4 linked regions of the Homo sapiens genome follow. The protein of the gene in region 1 purifies or fractionates together with the protein of each later gene. This does not show direct contact. Each region holds a gene or a part of one and is shown on either strand. Other genes may lie near its edges.

What was found. Proteins that work in one complex are often made in the same cells at the same time.
Region 2: the proteins of DENND4C (region 1) and MAST3 purify together in Homo sapiens (affinity purification with mass spectrometry, with the first as the bait; one large-scale study listed by BioGRID). This does not show direct contact.
Region 3: the proteins of DENND4C (region 1) and NAV1 purify together in Homo sapiens (affinity purification with mass spectrometry, with the first as the bait; one large-scale study listed by BioGRID). This does not show direct contact.
Region 4: the proteins of DENND4C (region 1) and MAPKAP1 purify together in Homo sapiens (affinity purification with mass spectrometry, with the first as the bait; one large-scale study listed by BioGRID). This does not show direct contact.

Annotation. Positions count from the first base shown.
Region 1 is NC_000009.12:19,330,712-19,335,946, reverse strand, and holds part of DENND4C (DENN domain-containing protein 4C), read right to left. Parts: intron 3,970-5,235; coding exon 3,763-3,969; intron 1,397-3,762; exon of another isoform or gene 1,279-1,396; intron 971-1,278; coding exon 842-970; intron 1-841. UniProt on the Homo sapiens protein: Guanine nucleotide exchange factor (GEF) activating RAB10. Promotes the exchange of GDP to GTP, converting inactive GDP-bound RAB10 into its active GTP-bound form.
Region 2 is NC_000019.10:18,124,343-18,129,577, forward strand, and holds part of MAST3 (microtubule-associated serine/threonine-protein kinase 3), read left to right. Parts: coding exon 1-24; intron 25-299; coding exon 300-432; intron 433-4,057; coding exon 4,058-4,116; intron 4,117-4,523; coding exon 4,524-4,609; intron 4,610-5,235.
Region 3 is NC_000001.11:201,807,192-201,812,426, reverse strand, and holds part of NAV1 (neuron navigator 1), read right to left. Parts: intron 4,475-5,235; coding exon 4,278-4,474; intron 4,010-4,277; coding exon 3,817-4,009; exon of another isoform or gene 3,725-3,816; coding exon 3,556-3,724; intron 3,264-3,555; coding exon 3,166-3,263; intron 2,986-3,165; coding exon 2,890-2,985; intron 2,482-2,889; coding exon 2,322-2,481; intron 1,905-2,321; coding exon 1,669-1,904; intron 825-1,668; coding exon 670-824; intron 525-669; coding exon 453-524; intron 1-452. UniProt on the Homo sapiens protein: May be involved in neuronal migration.
Region 4 is NC_000009.12:125,437,409-125,442,643, forward strand, and holds part of MAPKAP1 (target of rapamycin complex 2 subunit MAPKAP1), read right to left. Parts: intron 1,605-5,235; coding exon 1,479-1,604; 3' UTR 1-1,478. UniProt on the Homo sapiens protein: Component of the mechanistic target of rapamycin complex 2 (mTORC2), which transduces signals from growth factors to pathways involved in proliferation, cytoskeletal organization, lipogenesis and anabolic output.

The DNA of each region.
Region 1 (5,235 bases):
TCACAAACAGTATAGAGTTTCCTCAAAAAATTAAAACTAGAGCTACCATATCATCCAGCAATCCTATTACTGGGTATAGATATGCAAAAGAAATGAAATCAGTATATTGAAGAGAGATCTGTACTCCCATGTTTATTGCAGCATTATTCACAATAACCAACATATGAAATCAACCTAAGTGTTTATCAATGTATGAATGGATGAAGAAAATGTGGTATATATACACAACGAGATACTATTCAGCCTGAAATAAAAAAGGAAACCCAGTAATTTGTGACAATATGAATGAACCCAGAGGACATTATGGTAAGTGAAATAAGCCAGGCACAGAAAGACAAATACCGCAAGATCTCACATATATATGAGATCCAGGAAAGTGAAACCCATAAAAGCAGAGACTAGAAGTATGGTTACCAGGGGCTTTGGGAGGTAAGGGGAAAGGGGACACTGGAAGATGTTGGTCAAAGGATACAAAACTTCAGTTCAGTAGGAGAAATAAATTCAAGAAATCTATTGAACAACATGGGGACTACAGTTAATAACAATGTATTGTATTTTGAAAATTTCTAAGAGATTAGAAGTGTTCTCACCACAAAACAATGAAGGCATATGTTAATTATTTAATAGCTCGATTGAGCCATTCCACAATATACATATCTCAAAACATCATATTGTACATGATAAATATATATACTTTTTGTCAATTTTTAATAATTATAAAAATTATTAAAAAATTATATCCCAAAACTTCCTTTAATAGGAGTTTCATGAATAACTAAAGGTATACAAAATAATCATTCTTAATAAACACCACATCTTGCCTAATGTCGATCCTACTTACCTTATTATAATAACCATAAGTAATAGCATTAGGCTTTATCCTAGCAGTTTTCATTTCAAATAAGACTCTCACTGCTAAAACAGGATGACCCCAAAGTCCACAAAGCTGCATCACTACTCGATAGCACACCTAACAAAAAAAAAAAATCAGTGTCAGTAATTAGTATACTAATCTATCTGTGAATTGTAGAGATTTTACTGAATTCTTTCCATGAAGTTATTAAGCAGTATTTTCTCCTTTGTTCTGCTTTGAGCATCTTAGCAAATTATTTTTAAGACCTATTCAGGCTGGGCACAGTGGCTCACGCCTCACAGCACTTAGGGAGGCTGAGACGGGTGGATCACCTGAGGTCAGGAGTTCGAGACCAACCTGGCCAACATGGTGAAACCCCATCTCTACTAACAGTACAAAAATTAGATGGGCATGGTGGTGCATACCTGTAATCCCAGCTACTTGGGAAGCTGAGGCACGAGAATCGCTTGAAGCCAGGAGGTAGAGGTTGTAATGAGCCCAGATCACGCCACTGCACTCCAGCCTGGGCAACAGAGTGAGACTCTGTCTCAAAAAAAAAAGAAAAAAAAAAAAAAACCCAAAAACAAACCTATTCATTAATGCAAGTATCATCATTATTAACCATTTCATATAAGACATATGTGTCCATGTTCCATTTGTTTGAGTAACTAAATCTATACAAAGAGAAAGACTATTACTCCTCATAATTTGAGAGGTAATTCATTTCTAAAATCAAGGATAGAGGCCGGGAGCAGTAGCTCATGCCTGTAATCCCAGAATTTTGGGAGGCCCAGGCAGGCAGATCACCTGAGGTCAGGAGTTCGAGATCAGCCTGGCCAACACAGTGAAACTCCATCTCTACAAAAAAATATATACAAAAATTAGCCAGGCGTGGTGGCACGCACTTGTAGTCCCAGCTACTTTGGGAGAGTGAGGCAGTAGAATTGCTGGAACCCGGGAGTCGGAGATTGTAGTGAGCCAAGACTGCGCCACTGCATGCTAGCCTGGAGGAAAAGAGTAAAACTGTCTCTAAATAAAAAATAAATAAATAAATATAAATAAAATCAAGTATAATTGAAGTCTCTCTCTCCCCAATCACTATGCTTTCCATTCAATGCCAAAGGAATTAAAGACAGTATCTCCAAAATGCCTACAGAACAAATAGGATTTGTCTTTAAAAGAATGAGAAGACAGTTAAATATACTGTAACATTATTAGCAAAGACTTTTCATTTTTAATTCTAATCTAGTTCAAAACATCATTTATAGTTATCTTAACACCAAAAATAATTTTTAAAGGGAAAAACAGCATTGGAAAAAGCTAAATAAGTGCCTCAGTTTCCTCAGCCATTAGCTGGATAATATCAGTATCTACTTCTTAGGATGGTTTCTAAGGCTTGAGAGAGAAAATGCATGAAAATGTCTAGTATATCATTCACTGAGTGCTTACTATGAACTAGGCACTTTAAGTATATTAACTGATTTAACTAACCTTCAAACTAACCTTATGATGAAGGTGCTAACTATTATTATCTACCTCAGTGGTTCTCCAGGAGCAATTTCGCTCTCCGGGAACATTTTTGATTGTCATGATCTGTGCAGGGAAAGAGAGGCATACAGTTGGTAGAGGCCAGGGATGCTACTAAACATCCTACACAATGTACAAGACAGGCCCCTAAAATAAACAATTGTGTGGGCCAAAATATCAATAGTGCCAAAGTTGAGAAGTTCAAAGCTACATTTTCTAATAGATAATCCAAAACACAAATAGGTTCCATAGGCCAGGTGCAGTGGCTCATATTTATAATCTTGGCACTTTGGGAGGCCAAGTAGAAGGATGGCTTGACACCATGAGTTTGAGACCAGCCCAGGTAACATATCGAGACCCCATCTCTACAAAAAATAAAACTAAAAAAATTAGACGTGGTGGTGTGCACCTGTAGTCCCAGCTACTCAGGAGGCTGAGGCAGGAAAATCACTTGAGCCCTTAAGTTCTAGGCTACAGTGAGCTGTGACAGTGCCACTGCACTCCAGCTTGGGCACGAGTATATATATATATTTAAATATAAATAAAAAATATATTTTTAAATAGATTATATAACTCACCTTAGGACACAGGTCCTAAGTGGAGAGCCACTTACTAAAAGCCTATTCCCTATCTGCTCCCCAATAAAGTTATATTAAGAATAAAATGAAGCCAGCCACAGTGGCTCATGCCTGTAATCCCTGCACTTTGGGAGGCCAAGGTGGGGGTTCAAGAGCCAGGAGTTCAAGACCAGCCTGGGAAACAAAGTGAGACTCCATCCCTTAAAAAAAAAAAAAAAAAAAATCAAAAACAGAAAAACCATATGCCAGGTGCCATGATCACACAACCGCACTCCAGCCTGGGCGAGAGAGGAGTGAGACTCCATCTCTTTAAAAATAAACAAACATGGCCGGATGTGATGGCTCATGCCTGTAATCCCAGCACTGAAAGCTGAGGCAGGCAGATCACTTGAGGCCAGGAGTTTGAGACCAGCCTGGCCAACACGGTGAGACCCCATCTCTATTAAAAATACAAAAAAAAAAAAAAAAAAATTAGCCAGGTATGGTAACATGTGCCTGTAATTCCAGCTACTCGGGAGGCACAAGAACTGTCTGAACCCGGGAGGCAGAGGTTGCAGGGAGCCAAGGACGCACTGCTGAACTCCAGCCTGGGTGACAGAGTGAGACTCTGTCACAAAAACAAATCAATAATTAAAATAAAAAATAAACAAGTAATATGCACCAGCTCCATGAAACAGTAATAGTTTTACCTTTCCTGCTTAATGAAAATGCTTGAGCACACTTTAAAGCAACTTACACCCAAATTTTATTAGAAGTACAAAAATAAAATTTACCTTAGAAACAATGTCAATTTGTTATACTTGCCTCATCTAAGGGATCCACATCTGTTTTCCTCATCTTAATAAGTACATCATATGCCTGCTGAAGTGCTCTGACTTTAGGATGAGAAACTCTAACATAGGCCGGAAGACAAATAAACCATAAACTGTAACAATGACTAAACAGACACTTGGCCCACTGTGGTGGATTTGTATAACATCTCTTCGCCAATTTATGAGCTGTTTTTATTTCCTAGAAAGAGAATAAAATATTATGATATTTACTAAAATTCATTAGGGTGAGGGGAGAAGTGAGAAGGAAAAGGGAGAGGAGAATTTAAGTAAAACTTGACCCCCTAAAATCAAGCACTTCAAAGTTGACTTTTGTGAGTGGCTTCCTGCTTATCAGTGTTAATGGTTCCCCTGAACATTCATTTACAGTAATACTTCATACTATACCAAATCTATTTGTTAGCAAGCATGTGTCTCTTAACAGAGTAGAAATTAAGAGCAAAGATCATTCATCTTTTTGTAATAGAATGGCTCATGTCTTTTACAAAGAAGGAACTCATTTTTGATGGGTGAAAAAGTGATATTCCTCTCACTCTTCTCTTCACTAAAGTTTAAGATGCTCTAGGCTATCTCCTGCCAAGATTTCCACTCTGTCTTCCCAAGCTACAGTCTATGTTAACTCCCTCACTGACAGACTCCTTAAAAAAGACCTGTTTCTGGCCAGGTGCAGTGGCTTATGCCTGTAATCCTAGCACTTTGGGAGGCCAAGGCAGATGGATCACGAGGTCAGGAGATCAAGACCAGCCTGGCCAACATGGTGAAACCCAGTCTCTACTAAAAATACAAAAATTAGCCGCGCATGGTGGCATGTGCCTGTGGTCCCAGCTACTCGGGAGTTTGAGGCAGGAGAATTGCTTGAACCAGGGAGTGGGAAGTTGCAGTGAGCTGAGATTGTGCCACTGCACTCCAGCCTGGCGACAGAGCGATACTCCATCTCAAAAAAAAAAAAAAGGACCTATTCCTTTGCAGTCAACATAAACTTTCCTAATAGTTTGATAGTCATGTTTTCTAGTTCTGGTTTTCATTCAGATTTAGGTAGAAGAGAAAATTAGGTATCAAAATCATCTGGTGAGTTTTGGTGTTTTCTTTGTTATTTTTTTTTAAGACAGAGTCTTGCTTTTGTCGCCAAGGCTGGAGTGCAATGGCGTGATCTCAGCTCACCGCAACCACTGCCTCCCGGGTTCAAGTGATTCTCCTGCCTCAGCCTCCTGAGTAGCTGGGATTACAGGCACCCACCACCATGCCCAGCTAATTTTTTTGTGCAGATTTTTAGTAGAGACAGAGTTTCACCATGTTGGCCAGACTGGTCTAGAACTCCTGACCTCAGGTGATCTGCCCACCTCAGCCTCCCAAAGTGCTGGGATTATAGACGTGAGCTGCCGTGCCCAGCCATCTGCTGAGCTTTACCAAACTATATATATTCCCAGAAACTACAGAACCTATCACA
Region 2 (5,235 bases), on another chromosome or scaffold:
CCAGCTCGGCTGCTGGAGTGTCTGGTAAGTTTCTCTTTCTACGGCCAGCTTGGGGTCCAGGCAGAACTGAGATTGGGACCACAACAGTCCTGCCAAGATACAGGTGACAGTTCCCATCGTGTAGGGCTTTGAGAGGAACACAGGGTGCTATTGGGCTAGCGTGGGCTTCCCTAAGGAGGCAGCGGGAGTGGAGACCCAGTGGGTGAGCTGGGAAGGGTGCTCCAGGCAGAGGGAACAGCATGTGCAGAGGCCTGCAGGTGGAACCAAGCCCTGGGTGACCAGCCCTCCTGTGCCCCTAGGAGTTTGACCCTGAGGAATTTTACCACCTGCTGGAGGCGGCTGAGGGCCATGCGCGGGAGGGCCAAGGCATTAAGACTGACCTTCCACAGTACATCATTGGGCAGCTGGGCCTGGCCAAGGACCCCCTGGAGGGTAAGCCGGGATGGGAAGAGGAAACCAAGGCTGGGAAAGGCCGGATGGAGGCCAGGCACGGTGGCTCACACCTTTAATACCAGCACTTTGGGAAGCTAAGGCGGGCAGATCACTTGAGGCCAGGAGTTCGAGACCAGCCTGGCCAACATGGTGGAAACCCCCCCCCTACTAAAAATACAAAAATTAGCTAAGTGTGGTGGCGCATGCCTGTAATCCCAGCTACTCAGGAGGCTGAGGCACAAGAATTGCTTGAACTCAGGAGATGGAGGTTGCAGTGAGCTGAGATCGCGCCACTGCACTCCAACCTGGGCGACAGAGCGAGACCCTGTCTCAAAAAAACAAAAAAAGAAAGGGCAGATGAAGCCAGGATTCAAACCCAGGCCCATCCGATTCCAGAACCACCGCACTGTTCTTTGTCTCTCTGTGGCCTTGCTCTTAGGTCACCTGTGGGAATTATGCTGAGACCCTCTGATCTTTTGGGGCCCAGGGGCCTCAGTGTCCTCAAATGCCACGTTAAGATGGTCAGGAAGCCTGGGGACCAGTGTTAGCAGTGGCCTTCCCTTTGTCCTGCAAATTCACAAATGACTTTACCAATTTCTGTGGCCTTTACTGTGGCCCAGAAAGTGAACTTGGAGTCAAACAGGACAACCCGTAGGTAAGAAGACGGTCAAAAACTCCCACAGCCGGCCGGGTGCGGTGGCTCACGCCTGTAATCCCAGCACTTTTGGGAGGCCGAGGTGGGTGGATCACAAGGTCAGGAGTTCAAGACCAGCCAGGACAACATGGTGAAACCCCATCTCTACTAAAGATACAAAAATTAGCCGGGTGTGGTGGCGTGTGCCTGTAATCCCAGCTACTCGGGAGGCTGAGGCAGGAGAATCATTTGAACCCTGGAGGCGGAGGTTGCAGTGAGCCGAGATCACACCACTTCATTCCAGCCTGGGCAACAGGGCAAGACTCTGTCTCAAAAAAAAAAACAAACAACTCCCACAGCCAGCCAGGTGCAGTGGCTCACGCCTGTAATCCCATAATCCCAGCACTTTGTGAGACTGAGGCGGGTGGATCACTTGAGGTCAGGAATTCAAGACTAGCCTGGCCAATATGCAGAAACTCCATCTCTACTAAAAACAAATATTAGCCGGGTGTGGTGGCATGTGCCTGTAGATCCCAGCTACTTGGGAGGCTGAGGCAGGAGAATCGCTTGAACTCAGGAGGCAGAGGTTGCAGTGAGCCGAGATCACGCCACTGTGCTCTAGCCTGGGTGAAAGAGTGAGCCTACATTTCAAAAAAAAAAAGATGTAGCTGGGTGTAGTAGTGCGCGCCTGTAGTCCCAGCTACTCAGGAGGCTAAGGTGGGAAGATCGCTTGAGCTTGGCAGGTTGAGACTGCAGTGAGCTATGATCACACCACTGTCCTCCAGCCTGGGTGACAAAGCCAGACCCTGTCTCAAAAAGAGAAAAAAAAAAATTTCCACAAATAGCCAGGATAAGAGGAACTGAAAGCTGGAGCATTGAACTTGGACCTAGCCTGGTCCAGCAGTAGCCAGGGGGAGGCTCTGGGAGGAGGCAGTGTTCAAACTGAGGCCTGGAGGGCAGGAGGTGACCAGGTTGCAGATCCAAAGGAAAGAGTGAAACAGGCAGCATAGGCATAGACCCTAAGGTTGGACCATACCTGGAGTGGGACTGACCTGCCACTGTCCCCATTGAAAGCTGGGGAGGCCCGGCATGGTAGCTCACACTTGTAATCCCAGCACTGTGGGAGGCCAAGGCAGGAGGATCACTTGAAGCCAGGAGTTTGAGACCAGCTTGGGCAACATACTGAGATCTCGTCTCTATTAAAAAAACAATTAGCCAGGCATGATCGCACATGCCTATAGTCCTAGCTACTTGCGGGGCTGAAGTGGGAAGACTGCTTGAGCCCAGGGGTTTGAGGCTGCAGTGAGCTATGGTCGCACAACTGCACTCCAGCCTGGGTGACATAGCAAGACCCCATCTCTACAAAAAGTAATTTTTTTTTTTCTTTTTTGAGACAGAGTCTCGCTCTCTCGCCCAGGCTGGAGTGCAGTGGCACGATCTTGGCTCACTGCAAGCTCCGCCTCCTGGGTTCACGCCATTCTCCTGCCTCAGCCTCCCGAGTAGCTGGGACTACAGGCGCCCGCCACCACGCCCGGCTAATTTTTTGTATTTTTAGTAGAGGCGGGGTTTCACTGTGTTAGCCAGGATGGTCTCGATCTCCTGACCTCATGATCCGCCCGCCTCTGCCTCCCAAAGTGCTGGGATTACAGGCGTGAGCCACCGCGCCTGGCCTACAAAAAGTATTTTTAAAAATTAGCCAGGCGTGGCGGTGAATGCCTGTAGTCCCACCTACTTGAGAGGCTGAGGTGGGAGGATTGCTTGAGTTTAGGAGACTGAAGCTGCAGTGAGCCATGATGGCACCACTGCACTCCAGCCTGGGTGACAGAGCAAGAGCCTGTCTCTGAAATAATCATACTTGGCCGGGTGCGGTGGCTCACGCCTGTAATCCCAGCACTTTGGGAGGCCAAGGCGGGCAGATCACCTGAGGTCAGGAGTTTGAGACGAGCCTGGCCAACATGGTGAAACCCTGTCTCTACTAAAAATACAAAAATTAGGCTGGGCGTAGTGGCTTATACCTGTAATCCCAGCACTTTGGGAGGCCGAGGCAGGCGGATTACCTGAGGTCAGGAGTTCAAGACCAGCCTGGCCAATGTGGTGAAACCCCATCTCTACTAAAAATACAAAAGTTAGCCAGGTGTGGTGGCAGGCGCCTGTAATCCCAGCCACTCGGGAGGCTGAGGCAGGAGAATCTCTTCAACTCAGGTGGTGGAGGTTGCAGTGAGCCAAGATCTCGCCACTGCACTCCAGCCTGGGCGACAGAGTGAGACTGCGTCTCAAAAAATAAAAATACAAATACAAAAATTAGCTGGGCATGGTGGCACACGCCTGTAATCCCGTCTACTTGGGAGGCTGAGACAGGAGAAGCACTTGAACCCAAGAGGTGGAGGTTGCAGTGAGCTGAGATCACACCACTGCACTCCAGCCTGGGTGACAGAGCGAGACTCCATGTCAAATAAATAAATTAAATAATCATACTAATAAAAAATAAAGCTGAGGAAACTGAGGCTCCAGGCAGATAAGGCTGAGCAGGGAATCAAACCCAGGTGTACCTAAGGCCAGATCACATGTGGTCTGTGGCTGGACCATGTTTGCCAGGCATTCGCTAGGGGCTGCCCCTCTGCCAAGGCCTGGGGCAAGAACATATTGGACCCTCCACCTGGGCTGCACCCTGAGCTGAGGAAGATGTTAGGAGCTGACACCCAGGGGGCCTGTGTCTCATCCCGTCTTCACAGGCTCAAGGCTCAGAGCCTAAGTTTGATCATGACTGAGCACTTCAGAGCCAGGGCAGCCCACTGGCCCTTCTAGAAGGTTCCTAAGTCATTGCTTCATCCAGCCTCCCGGATGTGGCTTCATGACAGTGTCATGAGAGCTGGTCAGGGGAGGCACTGCATCCCCAGCCTGGGGTGAGAACTCTAGAGGCCTCAGGAAATTGCTGGGTGATGCAGGGTGAGGCAGGGAGGCTCCAGCTGAGCCTCCTCCCTCATCTTGCAGAGATGGTGCCACTGAGTCACCTCGAAGAAGAACAGCCCCCAGCACCTGAGTCCCCAGAGGTGAGTAGCAGAGGCTGGGGGACCCCCGCTCATCTTGTTCTTTCCAGAGTGGACCAGGCACCCGCAGAAAGGGCTGGGTTTGCCGAGGTCTTGCATGTAGCTTAATTAGCATCGGTGACTTTGGAGGCAAGGTGACGGCACGTGGGACTGCCCTGCCTTGGAAGTCGGGTGGGGGCAGTGCTGGAGGGGCACTGGACAGGTGAGTTTTGCAGGACGTGTAAGAATTTCCCAGGAGGAGGGCACAGCTGTGAGCAAAAAAGTACAGAAAGTCAGAAGCTGAGTTGGAGAAGTTTGGACAGGGGAGGAGGTAGCATCGGGCACCAGGACCAGTGGTTTGGGCTTGGGGGCAGGAGAAGCCTTCCCAGCTCTGCAGCGGGGCAGGACCCTAAGCCCTTCCCATCCCCTAGAGCCGCGCCCTGGTCGGCCAGTCACGGAGGAAGCCATGCGAAAGCGACTTTGAGACCATCAAACTCATTAGCAACGGAGCCTATGGGTGAGTCCCTGAGTCCTGCATAGACCCATTTCACAGATGCCTGAGGGGATGGTTGAGGCCCAGGCAGCTCCTGCATCCCCCTCCTACCCCAGCAGGGCTCACACATTCATCCTTGAATGGGCAGAGAAGGCACCTGAGGACTGGAGGGGGAAGTGGAGACACGCCATAGCGAGGTTACAGCCTCATGTGTGCTCTGTCCACGAGCCAGGCCTTTACCTGCCCCAGGTGTAGGGCGTTCTAGGGGCTTGGGGGCTGATCAAGGAAATAGATGCCCACCCAGTGGGAGTAGCACGCAGTGAGCTTTATTTAGGTGCTGCTTTGAATGGCAGGCTTGCATACAAGGGAAGTCCCTCATAGCATAAGCCTTTTGGAGGCTGAGGTTCCAGGAGTCACCATCAAGAGGGAGAGGCCGGCAAGGGAACTCCCCGGGCAGAGGGGGATCAGAGAGGGGGCTTACATGTCTAGGTGATGTTGTTCAACAGCATGGGCACTCAATCTCTGGGTCAGAGACTCCCTGCAGGGTGGTAGCAGCTTAGGGTCTTGAAATCCACAAAGTTCATCTTATCCATGGCTCAGAGATGGTGCAGTTTCACGAGTCTGCAAAGCAGACAGGCTCTCAGTGGCTA
Region 3 (5,235 bases), on another chromosome or scaffold:
ATGGGGACATTGTCAGGGTTCAGCCCCTGCCAGTCTGTCCCTCCTTCTGCCTGCTTCTCACTAATGCCTACTTGGTTTCTTTTCAAGTAATAGTGGGGACATCGGAACTCAGAGCAGCAGCCCTGGGGTGGTAGAGCTGATTCTCAAATTGGTAGCCCTCTTCGGATAACCTTCTGACATCACTGACCCAGATCAGCGTGTGCGGGCAGAGAATCCTAATTCTGCTTAGAGCAACCTACCTGGCTCTCTCTTAGCTTAGCAGGCCTTTTCTCTCCTCAAGTGTCCTCCTCCACCTTGTAACTGACATGACAAATACATCTACTTTCTATTTCCAGCCCAAAAAGCTCTGGATACTTCTCTTTCCTTCTCCTATCTACTGCCTCCTGGCCAGAGTCCAGGATTGAAGACTCTTGGGTAGGGTCAGAAGGTTCATCCAGAGCTAGAGGTCTTACCTGAAGCTCAAGTGCAAGCCATGGTTGGGTGTCATTTTTACAGGCTGATTGGTGGTACCTATAATATAGGGACTGTAGGGAGAAAGGGGAAAAAGATTCACTTAGACTTGCCTTCACACTTGCTTTCTGCCACATGCACACAACTCATAGGTTGTCCTGGACTGGGTTCTCCCTCCTCCCACTTCGATGAATTTTGTCTTGATCCCAGCTTACTTACCATTTATGATACTTGCAGGTGAGGGCCCCATTGACCAACTCACTGATGGAGCCTGCTTCACTCAGGTCATCCAATAGAATCACCAGGGGCACATCCCCAATTCCTGTTTCCCGGTCTATCTGGTTGGCTAGGTTGGAAAGATACAGTTGCAGATCCTGGAATAAAAGAAGGCTGTGGGTCAGCACTTGGGAATAAGCAGCTGGATCGGCCTTGGAAATCAGGATTTTGAAGAAGTCTTACTAGATCTAGATTCCCCTGGGGCCTTTAGTTCCTTGCAAATTTGATTACAGCAGATTACCACAGAGTGATAAGCAGTGGTTGCAAAGGCTCTAAAGCAACCCTCTTAAGCAGCAGCCCCTAAATTCCCCAAAGTTGGGGAACATATGCTATTTCCTAGATGGATTTTCACTGGTACCATGGACTACTACTAATGGGCATGCCTCCCCGAGCTGGGAAGAGCAAAGATCTGAACCAACTCCATTGTATTAGGGTACTCAAGAGACATCATCAGGTTTTGGCAGGGGAGGGTGTAATATGTACCATTTAATTCTGAGTGCTTCTTCCCAGATAGCCCAAGGTCAGAGAGTAATACTGAAAAGAAAAGTAGAAGGAAGAGAACAAAAGAGAAGGGATGGGATTGACAGGGTTGGCAGACAGTGGGGTAGAAATGAGGAGAATGCAGTTTCATCAATGACCAACTGAGGAGGAAGGTGCACAAAGCAAGGAAAAGTGTGGAGAGGAAAGCCTTTCTCCATAAAGGCAAGGGAAAGTGTGGAGAAACAAGTTAAAGGCAAGAGGCTGGAAAGAAATCGTGGGGAGGGAAAGGAGAAGACTGGAAAAGGGGATAGATAGAGAGGGAAGGAAATGAACACAGAAGAGAAGAAAGATGAAGGCAGAGGTGAGGAAAAGGGAACAATGAGGCAGGAAGGGGCCGAGGAAGGGTCTTAGGGAAGGCTGAGGCATGAACAAAGGCTGGCAGGGGTGTCGGGGGGCAGCCACCTTGCAAGACTGCTGGTGCATGTTGAAGGTGCTGACGATGCCCTCTGTGACCTCACGGCCAGAGCGCTCCACCAGGTACTCGGCCAAGCGATTGGTCAGGTAGGTCTTGCCCGTGCCGCTGGGGCCCGAGAGGACGAGGCGCCGGTGCTTCAGCAGGAGGCTTATGTAGTGCTGCATCATCGGCTTGGGGATCAGCGTCTCGAACACCAGGCTGTCGACGCATTTCTCCTTCAGACCTGAACCCCCACCCCAGAAAGCATGAGTATTGACCAGGGTCTTGAGGATAGCAAGGGATCCTAAAGGGCTTTTCTTTCTTTATCTAGGAGCCCCCTGAAGAAACTCAGAGCCACTTGCCCCATGGTTCCATAAGAGTCCCTTAACCCCTAGTTTTGAAAACTTAGATCTTCTTTTTAGGGACATGCTGTGAGCTGGGGGTGAGGAGTGAAGCAAGAAGCCAAGGCTTAGCAAAAGTGTCCCTGGGAGCCAAAGTTAGGACTGGGTCTTACTCATCTTTTTATATCTCACATTACTTAAGCATCTTCATATTATACCTTCTCAGTGAGTTCTTGGTGAATGAATGCATGATGGATTATTTGATGATCCTGTCCCTGCCTTCATGCCACACCACCTCACCCCAAGAGACAAAGACTGACCTTTGAGGGAGACTGATATGTTATTGACACCTCGACGGCAAGGAGGCATCTCGGGGGGCTCTGCATCCAACACTCGTTTCACGTGGCTGATGCTGTAGCCATGGATGGACTCAGTGCTTAGTCCCAGGGTAGAGGCTGGGTCCATTTTAGAAATATAGTCCTGACAGAAAAGACAGGCAGAAGAAGAAGAAAATATACAAACACAGGTGTAAAAGCCACAACAAAGAATGTCTATCAGAGGAAACAGAAATAGATGGAGAAAGTGCAGAGCATATGCTTTTCCTAGGTAGCATTTCTCCATAAAGCCTCAAAGGTCCCCAGGATCCCAGTGCCTGGACGGTTTAATATCCTGTGAGAAGCCATGCATGGTGGCACATGCTTGTAATCCCAGCTACTCAGGAGGCTGCGACAGGAGAATTACTTAAGCCCAAGAGTTCAAGGCTGCAGTGAGCTGTGATCACGCCACTGCCCTCCAGCCTGGGTGGCAAGAGTGAGACCCTGTCTCTAAAAAAGTATATATATTCCACGAGAGGATGAACAACCTTTTTGAGTACAGGTATCCCTTTACCTTGAACACTTGGAAAACAGCTTCATCCAGCATCTTCCAGTCAACTTTTCCACTGACCTTGCTACAGCCCAGGAAGAATTCCTGCTGCTTCAAGTCCTGTAAGGCCAAGGAAGGAAAAGCTCTTGAGCTTCACTGCAGATGACTCCATGAACCGGGGTCCTAAAGGCCTTAGGAGTTGAGTTCTTTGGTTTTGGAGGTACCCAGGGTCCAGATTTTCTTGGATAAATGTAACAGTATTTGTTCATTCCCACTGTGGCTCTCCCTGAAGTTCCTTACCCCTTTGATGATGTGCTGCGGGGGCATCCTCACCACCACCCGGAGGGTCACTTCCTCCTTTGGACCACAAGTACTGATGCCATCCATGGGTGACAGGTCTGTGGGGATTGAAAAGAACCAACTGGTTTTAGGAGTACCCGCAGCCTTTCCTAAACTTTCCCATCATTATCCTTTCCAAAATAACTCTGTTTGCCACAGAGAAGGAATGGAGGTCCCAAACTCAAAAGTAGTTAAGGTTGAAGGACCATTACAACTCAGTGTCTTAGGACACTGGCATCTGCTTGGCTTCGGCATTGTTACCGCCCTGACCAAAGCAAGTGGAATGGTGTAACAGTGAAATAAGCCCTTTTCTTCCCTTCACCCTTATAGATTCTTCTCCCACACAGGTACCTGTGTCTGCAAGACTGGGGCCGAAGGAATGGGTGAGTGCCAGGCCTAGGGAGCGGCGTGGGGAAGATAATGCAGATGATCCAGGGACCTGCCCTGGAGTGGAGCCTGATGAGGGGCCTGGGGCTACCTTCAGTCGGTCATTCTCTGCTTTCAGCAGGTCCACCTCCAACTGTGGCAAGAACAGACAGGGTAGGGTGGCAGACTGGACAGACAGCAAGCCTTGGTCTTCCCTTTCCTGCAGCTGTCCGCCCAGACACTGACCTGCATGTTGTGCATGGTCTCCCGAAGCTGATCCAGTTGGTGGGCAGAGTTGAGGGCCTCCAAGCGGATGTCTGTAAGCTTCATTTCCTTCTCCCATAGCTCAGAGCGCAGCTCCGATACCTCCTTCTTCTCTGGCTCCTCCTCCTCATTTGCATGGAACAGCCTAGTGTGGGGGGCTGGGTGAGCAGGGCCCCTGTAAGATAGCAAGAGTCAAGCCAGGCTACATGAAGAAGCACTAGAGTTACTAGAGAATATTGAGAGGCATGGTTGGTGGTCTTGGCTTCTCCTGCCCATTGATATTCAATCAGCATGAGAAGAAAGGTCCATCTGTTGGTCTCATATGCCCAGGGAGAGGTCAGTAATAAGTACTGCTTGTCTAAGGTCTAATGGCCTCCTGTCAACTCTAGCCCACAGCTTACACTGGTAACAGGCTGGGTGGCAGGGAGCCAAAGAGCACTTACTCGGTGACATCAGTGCCCACGGAGGACGAGGTGGAGGACTTGATGGAGGGTGAAGCAGTCTCTGTAGAACCATGCTGTAGTTTGGGGGATGAGGGGGCTGAAGAGTCGGGTGTAGCAATCTCCTCTATATCCGAGTATGAGGAAGCTGACTTGGGCCCCTTTTTTATACTGAACGCTTTGTTGAAGGAACTTCGAAGCTAGAAAAAAGCAGATCCAGGTAGAGGGACATTAGGACTCCACTACTGGGATGGGGGAGGACTGGATTGAGACTTCTGAGACAGAGAGAGCTGGAGGCGGGGGATTTACTTTAATTAAGCCACCCTCTATAACACTTCACTTGATTCATAGAATACGGACAGAAGAGTTGCCTAGAAATTAGGACCGTGGAGGCAGAGGTTGCAGTGAGCTGAGATCGAGCCACTGCACTCCAGCCTGGCAACAGAGTGAGACTCCATCTCAAAAGAAAGAAAGAAAGAAAGGAAATTAGGACCAAGAGAAAGAACAGAATCTTCTAGCTTGCTGATGTTGTAGGCTATGGGAACTTCCTGGGTGTTCTCTTGCTCATAGGGGGAATTGTGCCCCTGATGGGGACAGAGAGAAGGTCCCAGAGGTCACATGGTATACAGCTCAGTGATCCAATCCCACCTTCTGCAGCAGAACAATAACCGCTCAGTCTAGAACCTGGCTCACTGTGGGCCTCAGAGGCCACCTCATGATGCCTCTGACTAGGGCTCATCAGCCCAGAATCTGTTCATCTAGTCATCTGTCAACCAGAAACTGACAATATGATTCTGTGGAGAACACGAGAAGGCAGTGGGCTCAAGCTTCTTTTAGTATTTCTTGTGCCCAGGACATCACAGAATGGTTAAAACAGCCAGACAGCATTTTCTATGATTTCCAATGTCCTAGAAGAAGGGCTATTTCCCAGCATTTCTTTAGAGTACTTGGGGCATTATAA
Region 4 (5,235 bases), about 110 Mb from region 1:
CTTTTATTTTAATATCATTTTAATATCGAATATGTCACAAGATTTAATGACCAAATTAGTCATTTACATTTTTCAAAGTATCTAAATATAAAATTGCTAAAAATTCAAATACAGATAGCAAGCTACAAATATTTCTTTTGTTTTTGGGTGGGGGGTAGGAATGGAAGACATTAGAAAAGGACGCTCCTGTTGGCTGAACAAAGATCAGAATGAAAGAAGAATTCATCAGCATGACCCCTTGTGCAAAGAAATACACTCAGCTTTAAGATGCTGTTTTAGACACATCTCTTCCTGTACAACAATTTAAAAAATGTTTCTAATGCAGGTCCTCAGTGAAACACCGGTCCCCGGCCCTGGCTGGGGACAGTAAGGACATCACCGCAGGAGGGACACTGAAGAGGCTGTCGAGGACTGCAGAGGCATCTGGTGTGGCCAGAGGCGTGGTGTCAGGGGCATCTGATCCCTTGCCTGTTCCCACCCAGGGAGCCGGACGGCACGGACACAGGTCTCCCTCCGCTCACCCCTCTCCCTGAAACGTGAGAAACAGCAGCTTTCCGCCTGCTTGAAAAAGGAGGCAGGCGCTGTAAGGAGAAGAGGAATGGGGAATGTGGCCCCTTCCAAGGCAGCGAAGCAGAGAACATGCAGGTGGAACTGCCAGCTGAAACCTACACTTGCTACTTAAGAAACGGAAAGACCATGTCTGGCTGGGAGTGCAGCGTGCCTGAGGACCAGCCACCGCCCCTCCTCCTGGCACCCCACACTGTCCACGCAGCTCCTGGGCTCTGAGGTCAGAAGCTGGGGTGTGCTGAAGGGGAAAGTGACACGGCCTTGGACACACCACTAGGTCTCTGTTCCTAACTTTTAGTAAGACACTACCCTCGAAGCAAATGCACTCATTTAAACAAATGGCATAGTTAAAACTATTGACTAAGACCTAAACATTTCTTCTGAGAAATCGAACCATAGCTTTTCCAATCTGCCTGTTCAATATGGGAACAGATTTTAAAGAGAGTAACATAATCAATCCTCCGCCCCAAAGAATGGTCCATCATACCAACCATGATAAAGAGTACACCTGTTTATTAAAAGGAAAAACAGAAATGTACATTTTTGTTGTTTGCTTTAAGAAATTTGATCAAGTTGCAAGGAAATGTGTGGGCACGGCTCTGTACATCCTCGGGCAGGGTGGCAGGCATTGAAGGTGGCTGGGCGGCACGTGGCTCCTCTAGGGGGTGGTCTGACCCCCAAGCATCGCTTATCAAAGCCACTGCCAAGCAGACTTCCGTCCCATGGCAATGTCCCCAGCGCTCCCTCCTAGGGGGCCCCCGACACCTTCCCCGAGAGCCCACCTGCCCTGTGCCAGTGAGCCAGGGGCTGGCCTCCCCCCGAGGACTTCAGGACACCGGGTGGACTCTAGGGCACTTGGCCCTGGCAGGCAGGCTCTGAGCTACGGAACAGATTGAGGCTGGAGGCCAGTGTCACTGCTGCCCGGATTTCTTCTCCTTCTGGAAGCTGAAGCTCGTACGTCTGTTCAGTTTTCTTTGTTTTTGAGCAAAGTAGTCAGCCCGGGCAGTGCTAGCTCGCGATTCCAGGATGTAGTTAACCTAGAAACAAGAGCACACAGCCCGGTCACCTTGCCAGCCGCTCCCTACCCACCCAGGGCATCGGAGGGGGTGGCAGGGAAGGCCCTGACCTGGGCCGGGTGCCTCAGGGCCAGGTGCTGTCGTGTGGAAGGAGTCCAGTCATCACAGCAACCTGGCAGCGGCTGGGCCCAGAGCCGCTGCTCTACGATGGGAAAACAGAGGCTTGGAGAAGCCAAGTGGCCAGTCCAGGCTTCCCAGTCAGTGAGCGGCGAGCTCTTCAGGTTCCGGAGCCCATGCTCCCTCCTGGCGTGAGCCACTCCCGGAAGGCTGTGCCCTGGGCTGCCTGGCTATGCCTCCCACCTGCTGTGTGACCTGGACAAGCACATAACCTCTCTGAGCCTGCCTTTCCCTGTGTGAAGGCCGAGAACACAGGGATGAAAAGCAAACCAAGACAGGCTCTCCATCCAGCCTCCCACCAGCCAGGCGCAGAGCTTCCCACCACAGTGCTTCCTTCAGGGCTCATGAGTGCCCAGCCAGGCAGGGCTCACTTGACAAAAAGGAAAGAGGCTCAGAGAGGGAGGCCAAAGTGGCCTAGGCCACGTGGAAGTCAGGGTGAGAGCTGTGAGGGGGCTGAAAGAGCCCTGTGTGAAGGGCGGGGCTGCCTCCTGGGCTCCTCTCAGGCCTTCTGCACGCTGCTGCTTCCACGAAGCCCTGGGAGTCTGCCCGGAGTCGCATGTGCATCTTCCACTCTGTGTAGCAGCTGCACCGCCAGGCGCTTCCCCAGCGCTACAGCGCTGAGACTTGGTCCTGGCCCTGGGGAGCTTGCTGCCTGGTGAGTGGGTGTCCAGCAGCAGAACCAGCACTGCAGCAGGCAAAGAGGAGCATCAAGGAATGGGGCTGAGTATCAGGGAGGTGTGGAGGAGGGAAGGCTTCCAGAGGAAAAGAGTGAGCGGGCTTTTGAGGGATACACAGGAGTTTTTGAGTGCGCAACGGGGAGGAGAGACGCAGCATGCATCAAGGCACAGCAGGGGCACGCCACAAGGGAGTGTCCCTGGAACTGCGAGAGCTTGGCTGGCTTAGTGAAATGAGGTGGTGGGAGCCAGGGAGGGGTGCTACAGTGGGATGCACACGCCCCAGTGCTGAGGACAGCCTGTGCCTGGGCATGGGCGGCAGCAGCAGTGTGAAATCAGTGGTGGCAACTGGCACTGCTCGGAGTGCCTTTCAGCGCTCATGGAATCTTCACAATAATCTTGAGACAGATGCCACTGTCATCCCCATGCACAGGTGAGGAAGTCAAGGCCAATGACAATAATGTCATTTAGTCAAGGTCACAAAGCTAGAAGGTGTCAGGCGCTTGGCAAACACCCCTTCCTGCTCCGCAGCCTCTCACCTCCTCTGCTCCTCTGGCTGGGGCTTTTGGTGAACAGACGCTATTTCTCTTCACCTGCAAGTATCTAAAAGTTTTGACTAGAAGGCTGAATATTTCTGACAAGAGAGGCCAGCCACTGCCTCTGCTGATTCTACTCCGAGGGCCATGTGTCCTGTGCCAGAGGGAGAGGAGCTTCTGCTGACTCCGAGAAGGAACCAGAGGGCTCCCGGGGGAGGCAGCGCGAGATGGCAACGCCTCAGATGGCCGAGGCTTCAACACTGTCCCTCCCAACTTTCTGCTCTGCTGGTTGGAGCAGCAGGCGTTAAAGGCTGGTGCGTGAGTACAGAAGGCCTGACACGCTCTGCCCGCTGCCTCGCCAAGTTACCAGCTGAGAGCAATAAATCATGAGGACCGCAGGGCCAGGTTGATGATTTGGGACAATACAGTGTATGGAAATAAGAGGTTTTATCATTCTTAATACAAGAAATCTTTGGATTATATTGTTTGCACACTCAGCCAACCTAGTGTTTTCAGTGTATTTTTGGCACATATAACTTGACAAAAGCATTTTAAAATGATCCTTAACAAGCCAACTATTTCCCAAATTTATTATCTTCAGTGCTTTGTGATAATCACATAGATAATGTTAATGGAAGATTAATGTAATAATCAAAAGATAAAAACGCCCTTTGCTCTGCCATTAGCTGGTTAATATGCTGTGGCTTAAAACTGGCACAATTTTATGCACTATAGAGTGTTTCATTTTCAACGCATTTTACAGCTTAAGGCATAAAAATATAGGGAGTTTTCATGGTCAATAAAGCCACAGCCTCCATCACTCAATCACGAGAAGAACCTGATTTGAAGAGCCCGACAACTCCTCTGAGATTCATCTCAAAGCCTGTGGAATTAGGGACCACCCATGGCTTAGCTCAGTGACATCTTGATGGGAAGAGGGCGGCTCTGGAGCTTCTCGGGCCAGGTTCAAGTAGAGGCTCCACCCTTGTGTGCTCTGTGACCTTGGGCCTCCATCTCCTCTTCTATAAAATGGGGACAATGTCTACATTCTGGAGGGCGGTCAGGAAGATTAAACAAGATAATGGACATTAGATGTACTGCATGTAGCTGGTGTTCAATAAATGGGAGACGTTCCTATTTCTACAAGCGCAAAAAGCTCGATGGAGGCTTTGTTCATGATTGTTTATTTGACATCAGATTGTGGCTCTTATTTCCTCCCTTCAATTTCCATCTAAGCTCTCATTTTATGTAAAATTCCTGAATTCTAGAACAACAGCATGCATTACTAGAGTCTAAACTGACTCCTCAAGAGCTTCTGATGGCAACAACATTTCTCCCAAGCTCCCGGACACAGGGCTGGGCTTCCGTTGCTTGGTACTGGTGCAAAGCTCACAAAGACACACTCAGGACACTGCAGGAATGGTGGATAAAACTAAGTATTCCAATTGCTATAAAAATCAGAGATGGGGCCGGGCCTGGCGGCTCATGTCTTTAATCTCAGCACTTTGGGAGGCTGAGGTGGGCAGATCACTTGAGGCCAGGAGTTCGAGACCAGCCTGGCCAATGGTGAAACCCCGTTCTCTACTAAAAATAGAAAAAAATTAGCTGGGCTTGGTGGCGGGTGCCTGTAATCCCAGCTACTCGGGAAGCTGAGGCAGGAGAATCACTTGAACCCGGGAGGTGGAGGTTGCAGTGTGCAGAGATCACACGACTACACCCCAGCCTGTGCAACAGAGTGAGACTCTGTCTCAAAAAAAAAAAAAAAAAAAAAAAAAAATCAGAGGTGGGAGAAGTACTATCTCATCTTCCATCAGGCTCATGATCATTAGCTCTAAGTAAATCAGGCCTAGGGTATGCTACAACTCTTCTGGAGTCTTGTGCATGACACAATATTTCTGCAAATATTTTGATATGGAAACAGACACTTTAGGGAAGGTGACAGACCTCACGGATTTTGCAGAGAAGCATCTGCTTCGAGGGAGCATTTGGACCTGTAAAATGATTTCTCTGCACTTGATCTTCCACAGTCTCATACTGAAGTCATAAACCTGTGTTTCTGTCATCAATCTGCTGTTGTGAAAATTATTTTGATGTCAAACATGGGATTATAATTTTACTAGAATCCTTCTCAAGTCTTGAATATTTTAATGCTGGCTATAAAAAAAAAAAAAAAAAGTCCAGCCCCTATCGGGGTAATGGAATATTTCTCTGCCAGGTCCCTGAACACTCTGCACAAGGGGCCCGTGCTGTCTGTGATGCTCCAGT